Linked DNA regions of Homo sapiens. The protein of the gene in region 2 purifies or fractionates together with the protein of the main gene of each other region. This does not show direct contact. Each region holds a gene or a part of one and is shown on either strand. Other genes may lie near its edges.

What was found.
Region 1: the proteins of AZIN2 (region 2) and CORO7 purify together in Homo sapiens (affinity purification with mass spectrometry; 2 studies listed by BioGRID and IntAct, with this or other methods). This does not show direct contact.
Region 3: the proteins of AZIN2 (region 2) and SMARCAL1 purify together in Homo sapiens (affinity purification with mass spectrometry; one large-scale study listed by BioGRID and IntAct). This does not show direct contact.
Region 4: the proteins of AZIN2 (region 2) and DDX11 purify together in Homo sapiens (affinity purification with mass spectrometry; 2 studies listed by BioGRID and IntAct, with this or other methods). This does not show direct contact.

What each region holds. Positions count from the first base shown.
Region 1 is NC_000016.10:4,354,032-4,357,649, forward strand, and holds the end of CORO7 (coronin-7), read right to left. Parts: intron 3,229-3,618; coding exon 3,137-3,228; intron 1,342-3,136; coding exon 1,255-1,341; intron 1,133-1,254; coding exon 1,127-1,132; 3' UTR 511-1,126; downstream 1-510. Other genes in the region: CORO7-PAM16 protein, read right to left, coding at 1,255-1,341, 3,137-3,228. UniProt on the Homo sapiens protein: F-actin regulator involved in anterograde Golgi to endosome transport: upon ubiquitination via 'Lys-33'-linked ubiquitin chains by the BCR(KLHL20) E3 ubiquitin ligase complex, interacts with EPS15 and localizes to the trans-Golgi network, where it promotes actin polymerization, thereby facilitating post-Golgi trafficking.
Region 2 is NC_000001.11:33,079,937-33,083,960, reverse strand, and holds the start of AZIN2 (antizyme inhibitor 2), read right to left. Parts: upstream 2,809-4,024; 5' UTR 2,667-2,808; exon of another isoform or gene 2,574-2,666; 5' UTR 2,453-2,573; intron 2,361-2,452; 5' UTR 2,149-2,360; intron 1,784-2,148; 5' UTR 1,712-1,783; coding exon 1,607-1,711; intron 944-1,606; exon of another isoform or gene 819-943; intron 8-818; coding exon 1-7. UniProt on the Homo sapiens protein: Antizyme inhibitor (AZI) protein that positively regulates ornithine decarboxylase (ODC) activity and polyamine uptake.
Region 3 is NC_000002.12:216,471,421-216,474,983, reverse strand, and holds part of SMARCAL1 (SWI/SNF-related matrix-associated actin-dependent regulator of chromatin subfamily A-like protein 1), read right to left. Parts: intron 1-3,563. UniProt on the Homo sapiens protein: ATP-dependent annealing helicase that binds selectively to fork DNA relative to ssDNA or dsDNA and catalyzes the rewinding of the stably unwound DNA. Rewinds single-stranded DNA bubbles that are stably bound by replication protein A (RPA).
Region 4 is NC_000012.12:31,101,306-31,104,868, reverse strand, and holds the end of DDX11 (ATP-dependent DNA helicase DDX11), read right to left. Parts: intron 3,037-3,563; coding exon 2,887-3,036; intron 2,627-2,886; coding exon 2,558-2,626; intron 2,443-2,557; coding exon 2,342-2,442; intron 1,934-2,341; coding exon 1,849-1,933; intron 1,553-1,848; coding exon 1,474-1,552; intron 1,293-1,473; coding exon 1,138-1,292; coding exon of another isoform or gene 1,063-1,137; coding exon 1,033-1,062; coding exon of another isoform or gene 836-1,032; 3' UTR 70-835; downstream 1-69. UniProt on the Homo sapiens protein: DNA-dependent ATPase and ATP-dependent DNA helicase that participates in various functions in genomic stability, including DNA replication, DNA repair and heterochromatin organization as well as in ribosomal RNA synthesis.

The DNA.
Region 1 (3,618 bases), on a different chromosome or scaffold from region 2:
ATTCTCCTCCCTCAGCTTCCCAAGTAGCTTGGATTACAGGCGCTTACCACTACACCTGGCTACTTTTTGTATTTTTAGTAGAGACAGCGTTTTACCATGTGGGCCAGGCTGGTCTTGAACTCCTGGCCTCAAACGATCCTCCCACCTTGGCCTCCCAAAGTGCTAGTATTATAGGCATGAGCCACCGTGCCCAGCCAGTTTCTCTTCTTTACTGCTGTCTTCACACTCTATATGCTCGTGTGCAGTCTGGTTCCCCTGCATAAGGAGGCTGTAAGAAGCTGAAGGTCCTTGCAAGACCTTATCTCTCCTGTCCTTTATAGCATCCCGCCATCCAGAGCACTGCCAGGAACCTGCATGGTGAGCGAATGACTCCCAGCAGTGCGCAGGTGATTGGGCCTTGGGACCAGAGTGAGGCTGAGATAAAGGGGAGCCCAGGGCCAGACCCCTGTCACCCACATTCCTGTCCCCTTCCCTTTCCAGCCAGCCCAGAGACCACAGCAGCACAAGAGGTGGCCAGCTTAAAAAAGTTTAATTGCTGAAAACATCCAAGGCAGGTGCGGGCCAGTCCCTGCGGGGCTCACACCCCCCTTATTGGACCATCAGCTCTGTGATGCCCCCTTCTCCTGGCTACAAACCTGGGAAGTAGGGCAGCTGGTCCCAGGGCCCTGAGACTGGTGCTGCTCTAGAAGGCCTGGTGGGGGGCCAGCCCCCAAGGCCCTTGACCAGAACTGGAACAGCAGGCAAGATGGGGCAGCGTGGGGTGACCAAAGATCCTGGATGAGGCCAATCCAGGCTGGGACCAGCCCAGGTCAGCAGTGAGACCAGGGGAGACAGGGTGCCCAGGGCCTGCCCAGGGACATGCTGCTGACCCCCCGCCACCCTGCACCCCTGGCCACATGCTAGCGGGCAGCTGATGAGCAGCAGCTGACCCCAGAGACAGCAGAGGTGAAAACAGTCCCTGGGAACTGCCAGAGGCCCAGAGGATGTGGAAGTGCCCACGGGAAGGCAGGAGTGCAGGGGTGACATGTGCCGGGGCCAGAGAGGTATCTTCCAGCTTGAGGATGAGCCGTGAGGTGTGCACTAGGAAGTGGCAGCACAGGTGAGGTGGAGGTGACGGGGGCGCAGGCTAGTCCTGGGGCGAAACACCAAGAGGTGGGAGGGAGTCAGGAGGGCCTGGGAAGGGAGGAGGCATGCACCGTGGCATGTGCGAGGGACCGCGCTGCCTGCCGGGAAGTGAGGCCACTCACTACTCACCCACTCGTCCTCGTCCACGCCTTCAAAGGAGTCCTGGGGGAGTGGGTCCTCCCGGTTCCCCAGTTTTGCCACCATGGCATTCAGCAGCTGGGAGAGAGGGCAGAAGAAGGGTAGGTAAGGGAATAGGACTCCCTGTTCCCTCTCCCACTCCAAGAACAACCCTGACAAGGCTGTGAAAAGAACTTTTTTTTTTTTTTTAGACGGAGTCTTGCTCTGTCGCCCAGGCTGGATGGAGTGCAGTGGCGCGATCTCGGCTCACTGCAAGCTCTGCCTCCCGGGTTTACACCACTGTCCTGCCTCAGCCTCCCAAGGAGCTGGGATTACAGGCGCCCACCACCATGCCCGGCTAATTTTTTGTATTTTTAGTAGAGACGGGGGTTTCACCGTGTTAGCCAGGATGGTCTCGATCTCCTGACCTCGTGATCCGCCCGCCTCGGCCTCCCACGGTGCTGGGATTACAGGCGTGAGCCACAGCGCCCGGCCTTTTTGTTTGTTTGTTTGTTTTAGAGAGAGACAAGGTCTTGCTCTGTCACCAAGGCTGGAGTGCAGTGGTGCAATCATGGCTCACTGCAGCCTTGACTTTCTGGGTGCAAGCAATTCTCCTGCCTCAGCCTCCCAAGTAGCTGGGACTACAAGTGTGTAACACCACACCTGGTTAATTTTTATTTTATTTATTTATTTTTTTGAGACAGAGTTTTGTTCTTGTTGCCTAGGCTGGAGTGCAATGGCACAATCTCGGCTCACCACAACCTCTGCCTCCTGGGTTCAAGCGATTCTCCTGCCTCAGCCTCCCAAGTAGCTGGGATTACAGGTATGCGCCACCATGCCCGGCTAATTTTGTGTTTTTAGTAGAGACGAGGTTTCATCATGTTGGTCAGGCTGGTGTCGAACTCCCAACCTCAGGTGATCCGCCCTCCTCGGCCTCCCAAAGTGCTGGGATTACAGGCGTGAGCCACCATGCCTGGCCACACCTGGTTAATTTAAAAAATTTTTTTGTAGAGATGGGGTTTCACTGGTCTCAGGCTGGGTCTCAAACTCCATCACTTATATCCTCTTGCTTTGGTCTCCCAAAGTGCTGGGATTACAGGTGTGAACCACCATGCCTGGCCAAAAGAGCCACTATATTTTATTTTTATTTTTATTTTTATTTATTTATTTATTTATTGAGACGGAGTCTCGCTCTGTCACCCAGGCTGGAGTACAGTGGCACGATTTCGGCTCACTGCAATCTCCACCTCCTGGGTTCAAGTGATTCTCCTGCCTCAGTCTCCCGAGTAGCTGGGATCACAGGCGCCCGCCACCATGCCCGGCTAAATTTTTGTATTTTAGTACAGACGGGGTTTCACCGTGTTGCCCAGGGTGGTCTCAAACTCCTGAGCTCAAGCAATCCGCCTGCCTTGGGCTCCCAAAGTGTTAGGATTACAGACATGAACCACCGTGCCCGGCCTCAAAAGAGCCATTTTAATTACAGCCCTGACAAAATCGATGGGTTTCTATTGAAAAAGACACAAAGAAGAGACAGGGGGAGTAAGAGACTGAGAGGCTGCGGCATGTGGCACCAGATACAAGGGCTACTATCTCTGCACATGGCCTCAAGTGCTCAAAATATACTCCAAGGTCCCAAAAGCACTTGGGCCCAGAACTGCCGGCTTAGGCTGGGTTTGGCCTGGCCAGGGCAGGGCTCCCACTGCCCTCCCCCACTTCCCGGGCCCCATGGTCAGTGGTAGGGCTCTGGAAGGTCTCCCCACCAGGCTCTGGTGTGAAGGGGACGTGACATGTGGCTGCTGTCCCAGTCTGGGTTGGGGATGGAGAACTAAGGGGCCGTGGCCAGGTGCAGCCAGGACTCTGTCACCTCCGCACAGCTGCTCTCTCCCATGCCTACCTCCTCCTTCTTTTGCTGGTCAGACTTTTCTTCCAGGTACTGCGCTGAGGATGGGGCCCGACGAGCAGGGGCCTCTCGGGGGGCTTGGCTCACTGGGACAGAGCAAGGACACGTGTCAGAGAGTCCCCTTCGTTAGGGCTCTTTGGTGCCAAGCCCTCGGGGATTTCTTTCTTTCTTTTCTTTCTTTCTTTTTTTTTTTTTTTTTTTGAGATGGAGTTTTGCTCTTGTTGCCCAGGCTGGAGTGCAATGATGTGACCTAGGCTGACTGCAACCTCCGCCTCCTCTGGGTTCAAGCGATTCTCCTGCTTCAGCCTCTGGAGTAGTTGGGATTGCAGGCGCCCACCACGCCAGGCTAATTTTGTATTTTTAGTAGAGATGGGGTTTCACCATGTTGGCCAGGCTGGTCTCAAACCCCCGACCTCAGGTGATCCACTCGCCTCAGCCTCCTAAAGTGCTGGGATTACAGGCATGAGCCACCGCGC
Region 2 (4,024 bases):
CCTCGTCCTGAATGACAAGAAGTGGATGAATGTGAGACCCCATCCAGCTCGCACCCTGTGCATGCCATCCGTGATCCTTCCAAGTACCTGACCCAGGTTCAGTACTGGCCACAGAGCTACCCTGCTGCTAAGTTTTCTGGGCCTCCCCAAGCCTACAGGGCAGAAGGCAAACTCCTCAGCCTGGCATTCAAGGCTCTGATCTAGCCCCAATCCCTCCCCTCAATGCGGCTAAAACTCCAGCTGTAGGCTGGATCATTTTCCCACCTTCAAACCTTTGTTCCCACCATGTCCTGCAGAATACCCTCCCCACTCCTGTGTCTGGCAAAATCCTTAAAGTTTCACTCAAATGCCACCTTCCCCAAACCAATAAGGCAACTCTGCTTTTAAATGCTCCCACTGCATTTGCATATGCTTCCAAGGTATCAGAACTGCATATGCATCTGTCCATTCTAGAAAAGGGTAAACTCCCTAAAGGCAGAAGCTATGACCTACAGCTCACTGCCTTCCAAACACAGGTGCTCAATGAAGCCTTAAGCTAGTCCCACTGACACTGCAACCTATCCCTATGGACAACTGTTCATTGTAGATGTGCTAAAGGCCAAACATGTATGAGGCTGTGGGTGAGACCACATTACTTAAATGTGGAAGGGACCCTTCCAGAGTTGCTTCCCTGGGACTCAGTTTCCCTTTCATGCAACACTTTTTTACTCATGCCCACTTGGTGCCAAACGTTATGCTAAGGGACAGAGATGACCAAACAGTACTGTTGTTCTGAAGGAGCTTGGGTCTGGAAGAAAAGGAACCCCTTAAGTACTTACAAGTCCATTCAGCAGATGTTAGATGGCAGTTTCTACAAGGTGCAATGCAGGGGCATGGAGAAAGAAAATAGAAAATCTGCCTGGGGCGATCAGGAAAGGCAACACTGATGAGAAGCAAGGAATGACTAGAAAGGGGTAAAGAGGGGAGAGGCTGAGAGAAGGATGCTGCAGGCAGAAGGAACAGCCTGGGCAAAGGCATGGTAATAGCATCATTGGGCACACAGCATCATTGGGAAATGCAAATTGAGTCATTCAGCTCCGAAGGAGCATAATATATACTGTGGGGAAAGCTGGGAATGGGGCTATGGAGGCAGGGAAGCTCTGACTTGATCCTGTAGGCAGTGGAGAATTGCCAAATTCAGATTTTGAACAGGACTATGATACCTTTGGAGGGGGTGGCATGAGACCGGGAGATCAGGGGGCCTTTGGAGAGAGGAAGACTGAACTAGAAAGCGAGGTTCCACATAAGCACACTGGAGGCTTATTTAAGGAGGCAGAATTCACAGAGCTTGGTAATGCCTAGATGTGGGCGGTGAGGGAGAGGGGGCAGCAGGAAAGGAATCCCCCGTTTCTGACCTTGGAGGGCTGGGTAAAAAGGCAACATAGGAGGGGCAGGTTTGGGGGCAAGGACAAAGAATTGGGGATAAATTGAGCCCCTCTCTTGCAAATAGCAAGGATTGCGTACCAAATAAGCGAAAGGATAAGATGAGGGCCCTAGGGACCCTTCCTGAGGAGGCAGCTGATCTGTACAGGGGACCGGGGACCCACCCCCATTCCCAGCCCCTCACCGTGGTGGCCTGTGAGGCCCCCAGAGTGAGTTCCTTCAGCAGGTCTCGGGTACTGAAGCCCTCCTCCACCATCACAAAGTCCGATTCACTCAGGTAGCCAGCCATGCCTTGCAGGAGGAGCTGACGGGCTGGATGGAGCCGCTGCTGCAGCCGCCGCCTTAGAAAGTATGCAACACACTGCGGGGCGAGGGGAGATGAAGGGAACCGCTGGGGGGCCGGCTCTGCTGCCCCACTCGCCTCCCGAGGCCAGGGATCCCAATCCCGTCACAACCCGCCCCCAGCACAAGCCCGGGGTTCACTGGGCAAGGGTGGAGAAAGTCAAGAATCCCGGATTTCAGACGGAGACAAGGCACCGTATGCCCAAATGTCACTGCCTCTCCGAGTCAGTTGCTCCCTCTGTAAAATGGATGAATTGTTTTGGAGAGCCTTCCCAGTTCTGAAATTCTGGATTTCAGGAAAGAGTGAGAGAGAGATGGAACAGAAAATCTGAGAAACTTGGGTGGGGAAGTTTCCAGGGCGCCCCCAGTCTTGACCACGCCCACCTAGAGGGTAGCCGGTGGCCACATCAAGGCGTCTCAGCCTAAGAGCAAGAGCTTAAGTTCGAGTCCGCTCTCTACTGCTTGACCTCGGGTACCCTCTGACCCTTTCGGAGCCGCAGTTTCCCCAATTGTAAATGGGGGCTGGACTGATCCTGAGGTGCTAGAATTCTAGGCGTGCCTGGGGACGCCACGCGGTGGGTGGGGGCCGCAAGCTCCTGGGAGAGAACGGAAGGCCGAGGTTTTTTCTGTCCGAGTGACTCCTACAGAGTGCAGGGCTGAGGTCCCCCCAACCCCCAGGGCCCCTTACCAAACTCCGTCCTCCTTCGCGGGGGCCAGAGCCAGGCGCGCTGCTAGGGGGGGTCGCCGGTGACCTCGAAACTTGTGCAACACCCCGAGGAGGAGTGGCAGTTGCGGAGCCGAGGCCTCTGCTGACAGGAGGCAGAAGGGGCAGGGAGGCAGGTCAGCACCAGGGCGGAGGGCGTCCGCTCCCCGAGGCTCCCCAGGCCACTTTCCGCACTCGCCTTAAAACGCATTTACACGGCTTCGGCCCATAGGTCTCCCCAGGGAGTGAATCGGATCCTCGGCGCCTCCGCTCTCTCGCTTCCCCGGGCTCGGGTCCCGCGGCCTGCGCCCCGCCAGCCCAGCAGCCACAGACCCCCACGCCCCGCCTTCCGCCCGCCGCTGGCTTATATAACCCCGCCCAGGCCCCGCCCATAGTGCCGAGGCCCTACCTCCGCTTGGCCGTAGCCCTGGCAACCGGGTGCCGCCATCCCATTGGTCGATTCCGACATAAAGCATTCAGCTCTGCTCGCCCTTACTGTAGTCTTCTCCCCCGGAGGCCTGGCGGTGGCTACCTCACGCTGGAAGTCAGAACTACAGGGCCGCCGCCACGCAGGTGAGACACTTAGACCCTGCATCTTAGGTCTTAGAGAGTGGGCAGGACCAGGAAGCCTTTTCTGCCTCTGCCTCAACTTACTTCGTGGTCCAGCTCTTGTCTGCGTCAGGAACTGCTCACTCATCTCTCGAAACCCGGTTCCAATGACATGTCCTTGTATTACTTTTGTAATAAAATTCTTTTTATTTAATTGCCTCTTCCAGGCATCTTCCCCGACTCCAACTCAAAACGCATCTAAAATGTCTTCAGAGAACCTTTTTGTGACTTTCCCAGTTCAGGGCAATCCCTCCCTTTATCCCATCCTGTGAACCCGGCAAACTCTTACTCATCTCTCAATAGAAATGTGTCTCCTTCTCCAAGAAGCTTTCCCGGACTTCCTCAACTCAAAGCATTTCTTCTATACCGAAAGCTGCTGCTCACCCATCAAAGTCCTGTATAATGTCACCTCTGTTGAACCTTCCATGACTTGCCTGGCCCCAAGGAACACAGCATTTAGTCTGTCTGGACCCCTCACTCATTTGGTTCTTGTTACCCATAGCGTGAGATTCCTGTTGTTATTTTACACTTCTTGTTTGGTTACACTTTGCATCTAGTTTGTGATTTCCCAAGGGCAAGGACTGAATACCCTGCTCAAGAGCCTGGTGCCTGGCATAGACAAGAATGCTGAGGAAGATTCAATAGCTGTGTTACTCAAAAGCTGATATAAAAGTTCATCTGGAAAAGTAAGTGTACAAGAACAGTCAAGACACTCTTTTTGCCCAGGCTGGAGTGCAATGGCACGATCTCAGCTCACTGCAACCTCTGCCTCCTGGGTTCAAGCGATTCTCCTGCCTCAGCCTCCCAAGTAACTGGGATTATAGGCGCATGCCACCACGCACAGCTAATTTTGTATTTTCAGTAGAGATGGGGTTTCACCATATTGGCCAGGGTGGTCTTGAACTCCTGACCTCCAGTAATCTACCCGCCCCGGCCTCCCAAAGTGCT
Region 3 (3,563 bases), on a different chromosome or scaffold from region 2:
ATACAATCCACTGATCTTCAGATTTCTTGTTTTACTGTATGTGTGTGTTCTACACAATTTTATCACCTGTGTAGGTTTTCATATATTCACCTCCAATGTTAAGATACTCAACAACTCCAACATTGCAAGGATCCTTTTACCTCCCTCCTCTTTCCACGGTCCTTAGCTCCTGATAGCCACTAATCTGACCTGAATTTCTAAAAACATTTTTTTTCTTTTTCTTTTTTAAGATGAAGTTTCACTCTTGTCACTCAGGCTGGAGTGCAGTGGCACGATCTTGGCTCACGGCAACCTCCGCCCCCTGGGGTTCAAGTGATTCTCCTGCCTCAGCCTCCCAACTAGGTGGGATTACAGGCGCACACCACCACATCTGGCTAATTTCTGTATTTTTAGTAGAGGCGTGGTTCCACTATGTTGGCCAGGCTGGTCTCAAACTCCTGATCTCAGGTGATCCGCCTGCCTCGGCCTCCCAAAGTGCTGGGATTACAGGCGTGAGCCACTGCACCTGGCCAATTTTTTTTTTTTTTTTCAAGAATGCACTATAGGCCAGGCACAGTGGCTCATGCCTGTAATCCCAACACTCTGGGAGGCCAAGGCAGGTAGATCACCTGAGGTCAGGAGTTTGAGACCAGCCTGGCCAACATGGCGGAACCCCGCCTCTACTAAAAATACAAAAATTAGCCAGATGTGCTGGTGTGCGCCTGTAATCCCAGCTACTCAGGAGGCCAAGGCAGGAGAATCACTTGAATCCGGGAGGCAGAGGTTGCAGTGAGCCAAGATGGCACCACTGCACTCCTGCCTGGGTGACAGAGCGAGACTCTGTCTCAAAAAAAAAAAAAAAAAAAAAAAAAAAAAGAATGCTATACAAATGTTATATAAATTGCACAGCATATAACCTTTTGGAATGGGCCTTTGCATTCAGCACTCTCTGGAGATTCATCCAAGTTGTTACCTGTATCAATAATTTTCTTCTTTTTATTGTTGAGAAATAGCCCACAGTATGGATATACCATAGTTTCACCATCCATCTGTTGAAGGACATCTGAGTTGATTCCAGTTTGGGGCTACTACAAATAAAGCTGCTATGAACATGTGTGTACAAGTTTTTCTGTTAACCTAAGTTTTCATTTCCCAAAGAAAAATGCTCAAAAGTCAATTGTTGTGTTGTATGGTAACTGCATGTTTAGTTTAGTTATTTTCTTTTAAATGGCATTTATTTATTCTTGCTAGTGATAAACATGATAAGGAAAATAAAAACATTTAGTAATCTAACCAATCTACTTTTTCCTGTCTCTTTTTTTGATGTGTATGGTATATATATCTTTTAAATAAAAAGTTTTATATCCTGTTTTCCCCCAATAAAACACATTATAAGTAAAACTGTATTGTTAAGTGTTCTAAAATATCATTTTTAATGGCCCTTTGTCATTATGCAGCAACAGCATAATTTAACCCTTCTATTTCTGCAGATTTAGGGGTCTCAAATTTTTCCTAAAAGGATATGTTGGTAAATGTCCATCAACAAGTGAACAGATGATGTACAATGGGATGTTATTTAGCACTAAAAGGGAGTGAACATCTGCAGGTCTAGATAACCAAAAAAGAAAAAAAAAAAAAAGGAAAACCAAGGAGTGAACACTAAAAAGGAACGAGACACACAACAACATGGATAAATCTCAAAAAAAAAAAGTACATCCTGAATGTCCTTTTCTCCACATTTATATTCCATTATATTCCATATTTATATAAAATTCTAAAAATCCGCAAACTAATCCTTAGTGACAGACCGTAGACCAGAGGTTGCTTGAGGATGGGAGGGTGAGGGAAGGGGCAGGAGGGCGTGATTACAAAGGAAAACTCTGGGGGTGGGGGCAGCGGGTGGCAGATATGTTTCCTATCTTGATTCTCATTAATTGTACACATTATGTGCAGTTTACTGCATGTCAATTATACCTCAAGAATGCTATTAAAATGGAAAGTTTTTAAGAGGATGCCAATTTTTGGTGATTTTCTTAGATTGGACTACAAACCAAAGTACGATAGCAAAAAGAAAAAACTTAATTTAAGGCTCCTGATATTATTGCCAAATTGCTTTCCAATAACTAATGTATTAGCATGTCCATCTTCGTACACTTTCATCAACAGTGAGCACCGCACATTTTTAAAACCTCTACTGACTTGATGGGGTAAAAAAAAAAATTTTATTTTTCACTAACTTGATTACTAGTGAAATTGGGTGTTTTCGTTATCTTTTAATTGGCTACTGGTGTCATTTCTTTGATGAACTATCTATTTATACAGGTTGCCCCCTTTTTTTTTTTCCTACTGGGAGTTAGGAAATACCTTTACATGTAAAAACCATTATTTGTATGTCACAGAGGTGGCTAATAGTTTCCCTAGCTTATTTCCTTCTATTACTTTTCTGTTGTTTTCTAAATTCTCCTTTATTTTTAAAAATGTAATTTTTCTTATTATAAAAATAATACACACTCATTGCAAAAATACAGAAAAACTAAAAAGATAATGATGACTACTTAGAGATAATCATCATTAATGTACTGGTATATATTAATCAGGCTTTTTTCTATGGATGACTATTTTATTTATTTTATTTTATTTATCTTATTTTTGAGATAGAGTCTTGTCTCTCACCCAGGCTGCAGTACAGTGGCAGGATCTCGGCTCACTGCAGCCGCTGCTTCCCAGGTTCAAGCAATTCTCGTGTCTCAGCCTCCTGACTAGCTGGGATTACAGGCATGCACCACTATGCCCAGCTAATTTTTGTATTCTTAGTAGAGATGGGGTTCCGCCATGTTGTCCAGGCTGATCTAGAATTCCTAACCTCGGGTGATCTGCCTGCCTCAGTCTCCCAAAGTGCTGGGATTACAGGCGTGAGCCACTGCGCCTGGACAACATGACAATTTTTAAAAATTATTATACATACAACAGCTTTTTGTCCATAGTATGGACATCTTCCGATAGCAATATATACTAACCAGATACCAAGACCTTCAATTTTGGAGTTTCTTCAGGTTCTTATAGGGTTCAATGATCTCCAAAGTTAGGAACCACTGATCAACATTATATTTTATGGCTGAATGGACTATAATTTATTTAATAGTATATCTGTTGATAAAAACTTAGATTTTTAATTATTGAATATTATAAACAGCATGACTAATATTCTCATTTATAAATCTGACTAGTCTGATGATTTCCTTAGGATAAATTCCTAGAAGTAAAATTTGAAAAATTGAGTGCACGCCTTAATTTACTGTCAAACTGCCCTCCAAAAATGTACAAATGTACAAGAGAATCATAGCCACTGTGGGCTGGGCATGGTGGCTCACGCCTGTAATCTTAGCACTTTGGGAGGCCAAGGTGGGTGGATCACCAGAGGCCAAGAGTTTGAGACCAGCCTGGCCAACACAGTGAAAGCTTGTCTCTAATAAAAATACAAACATTAGCTGGGCATGGTAGCAGGCACCTGTATTCCCAGCTACTTGGGAGGCTGAGGCAGAAATGCTTGAAGCCAGGAGGCGAAGGTTGCAGTCAGCTGAGAT
Region 4 (3,563 bases), on a different chromosome or scaffold from region 2:
GCACCAGTGCGCTCCTCGATTCCCTAAAGAGGCTTCCAGAGAAAACAGCAGCACATATCAATAAAAAACTCAGCAGAAACCAACAGCACACTTTTATTTAAGGACCTATAGCTGTGCAGGATGCAAACATCTGGGCATCAGTGACTTTCCTCCTGCCCCCGTTTGTCCCTGATGGTGGCAGAAGATCCCAGCTGACCACAGCCCCTTTCTCTGGGGTCAGAGGGAGAAGACAGGCGCAGTCAGCAGGGGCAGCTGTTGCAGGTGGGAGGGATATTTTCCCACAGGAACAAAGGTCTCCGTGATGACACGGGGTCTCTATAGTCATGTTGAGAGCCTAACGGCCCTTGGCATAATTGCTGGTGTTGGGGTAGAAGGTGTCTTGGAGTTTGCTCAAGTGGTTGAGAGGGAGGGAGGTGCCATAGACTTGGAGGAACTGGCACGAAGCCAAGGATACAAATCCAGGCAGGGCTGTGGGACAGGATAGGGAGCAGGGCCTTCTACTGAAGGAGTGACTCAGGAAGGAGGAGGGGAAGGTGACAAGCCCCTGGGCAGGAGCCCTGTGGCCATGGATCATTTTAAATTGAGACCAGAGAGTGAGCAGTCCAGGGCAGCTATAACCTTGGCTAGAAAGGGCAGAGGCAGATGGGCCTGCTCCATCTCGCCTCTTAAGAAGGTGGGCAGGACGGAGATGCCACAGTGGATGCCACAGCTGCCACAGCCTCCTGCGGAGACCAGGAAGGAAGCCTGGCTCTCAGCCATGCAGGATGGAAAGAAAGATTCTATTCCAGGAGGGGAGCTGCCCTGGAACGCCCCAAGGACAGCCAGGACCCACTGTTCATTCAGGATTCCCCCATTTTCTCCTACGGGAGCTAACGCCTGTGCCTGGGTCCTGGCAGCACTCTGGACTCCACACTCTCCTCCTGGGTTTCACCTTTGTAACAGGATCCCCGCAGACCACGCCCACGACAAACACTGTCTCCAGCGGGCAGGACAAAGGAAGGGCACGGCGCCAGGCAGTGGTGTGGTTGCCCATCAGGAAGAGGCCGACTTCTCCCGGTGAAACTGGGCAGACAGAAGGCAGTGAGAAATGTGATCTCGGGGTGGGGAGGCTCTCAGAAAGAAAAAGGTAGGACTGACCTTCTGCACAGCAGCAATGGCGGGGCCAAAGGTAGCTTTGACCTCCACACGGGCTCGGATCCAGGCCGGCAGCTTGGCCAGGACAGGGGGCCGGGCATATCGCTGGTCCAGGAGCACTACGCTGGCAAAATCCTTCTGGTGCCTGATGGCCCTGCCTGCATAGGAACAGAGGCTGGGGCTCCGAGCAACACCTGCCTCCCCCCTACAGCACATTCCCACGGCGACCCCCTCCCCTTCCTCAGACTTATATAGGAAACAGGGCAGGCAACCCCTCTTTCCTGTTCTCCCTTTCTCCAGCCCCCATCTGTCCACCCAGCTGGAGGCAGCCAGGCTCACCTATGGACTGGTTGACGGCCTTCATGCACAGGTTCTCCACCAGAGCCTTCCCTGGGGGTGCCTGGCCGGGGGCTCTGGGCTGGGAGTGAAGGGGAAGACCCATCAGGACTGTTCCCTGCCTGCAGCTCCCCCTGGGAAAAGACCCTGCCAGGCTTTGGAGCCAGACCAGGAGGCTTCGTGGCCAATGCCAGCAGCAGGGGTCCAGGTGACATCACAGGGAAGATCAAGAGGGTGTGGAGGGGCATCCAAGCTTCCGGAGGGGGCAGGAGACGCCAGCGCAGCGGGGAAGGCCTGGCTGTATCAGCCCTGGGGGTGATGCCACTCCCACCCACTGCCTACTCTCCTGTCACCCTCTGTGACACTGGGGTCACTCACGAGGGTTTGATCCAAGTAGGCCATCTTCTCCTGCAGCTCTGCAGACCTGATGTTGGGGAAGGGCATGCCCACCATCACCACACACCTGGGCGGGGGAGACAAGAGCCCAGCAGGTGGACGTCAGGACCTCCCGGGTCATCACCCACGTCACCAGCTGCTCCGTTCTACCCCTTCCCTCAGCCTCTCCGACTGTGATCAAAACTCAGCCTCTCTCCACTCTGTACCTACCACCTGGAGAGGGCTTGTTCGGCTGAGAGATCCCGTCTAGGCCAATTGACTGGGTCCTGATACAGCAATGGGTAGCCTAAAATCCAACTGCTCTCCCAGGACCAAACCCAGAGCTGCTGAGCCCCTCCCTCCAGCTGGCTGGTCTGAGCAGTCGCAGCCCAGCTGTGGGCTCTAATGGCAGCAGAGAGCAGGCAGGGGCCCAGCTGCTGGGAGTGAGGGCCGGCCATGTATCACGGCCCAGGAGACGAGCAGAACCACTACTTACCGGCCTAGGTTGTCAGAGAAGTTGATCCCTTCACTCATCTTTCCTCCAACCACAGAGAGGAGCAGGGCCCCTGTCACCTGGCCTCTCTCCTGGCCACAGGCCTGTAGGAGAAACCCAGACGCTGAGTTGCTGAGCCAAAACTTGGATGACACCCACAACGTTTCCAGCTGCCACCCCCACACGATCTCAGACCCAAGCCCAGCATGACGCCCGCACCTGGATGCACCTGGAATATGCCAGCAGCACCTGCTCCACCTGGTGTGCGCTCTTAGGTTCCTGGAATATCTGAGAAAGACAGAGGACATTTCCCAGAGACAGGTTCAGGGTGCCAGGTCTCGAGTCTGCTCGTGGCCTTGTGTTTTCTGGCCAGGGGACTGGAGAACCTCACAGCCAGGGACTTTGGGGGAAATCCTCTGTAGTCAGGGACTGGGAGCGGTGGGGATGAGGAGCCAGAAGCCTGTCCTGACCCGATGAGCACGAGAGCTCCCAGGAGGACTCAGTGGCACTGTCCTCACAAGTGGGAAGGCTGCCGACAGGCCACTCACCTTCTTCCTGGCAGCCAGACGGCCCAGCAGGCCACCCTTCTCCCAGTGGGCATGGACCTGGCGCAGGTACTCGTAGGAGGGGAAGAAACAGACCACCCCTCCAGGAACCACACCGCACAGGTTACAGAGAATGCGACCCACCTCGTCCATCTAAGGAAGGAAAGGAGGGAGGGAGGGAGCCCCCATGGAGCAACCCCTCAGCCACCCACAAACCGCGTCTTCACCTTGAGACTCAAAACTGAGGAGAGACCCTCGGCAGGACTACAGCCAAGGAAGAGGACTTGGCTCCCCTGGGTGGGAACCACGGGGTGGTAGGTGCCACCTCCCACCAAACACACCCAGCCGCTGCTGCTGACTGCGCCTTTCTGACACATGTCACAGCACTAGCGTCCCTAGGGGGCCTCCCTATTGCCCTGGCACTGAGTCCTCCCTTCTTCTGTCCAGGGTCCTGATGGGCACCACAACGACAATCAGGGGCTGCACACCCCAGGCACACCACAGGAGATGCCCCCAAGCCCCACATCCCTACCCCCGGCAGGGGCAGATATAACCAAAGGGCAAGAGAGCCAAAGGGAACTAGCAGCTTTCTCCTGTGTGAGGCGTCCTCAGAGGATGCCTGGAGGTTTTATGAATACATATTTCGCAGCCTAAGGCGTGAGGGGCGGGGAAGCTCAGAC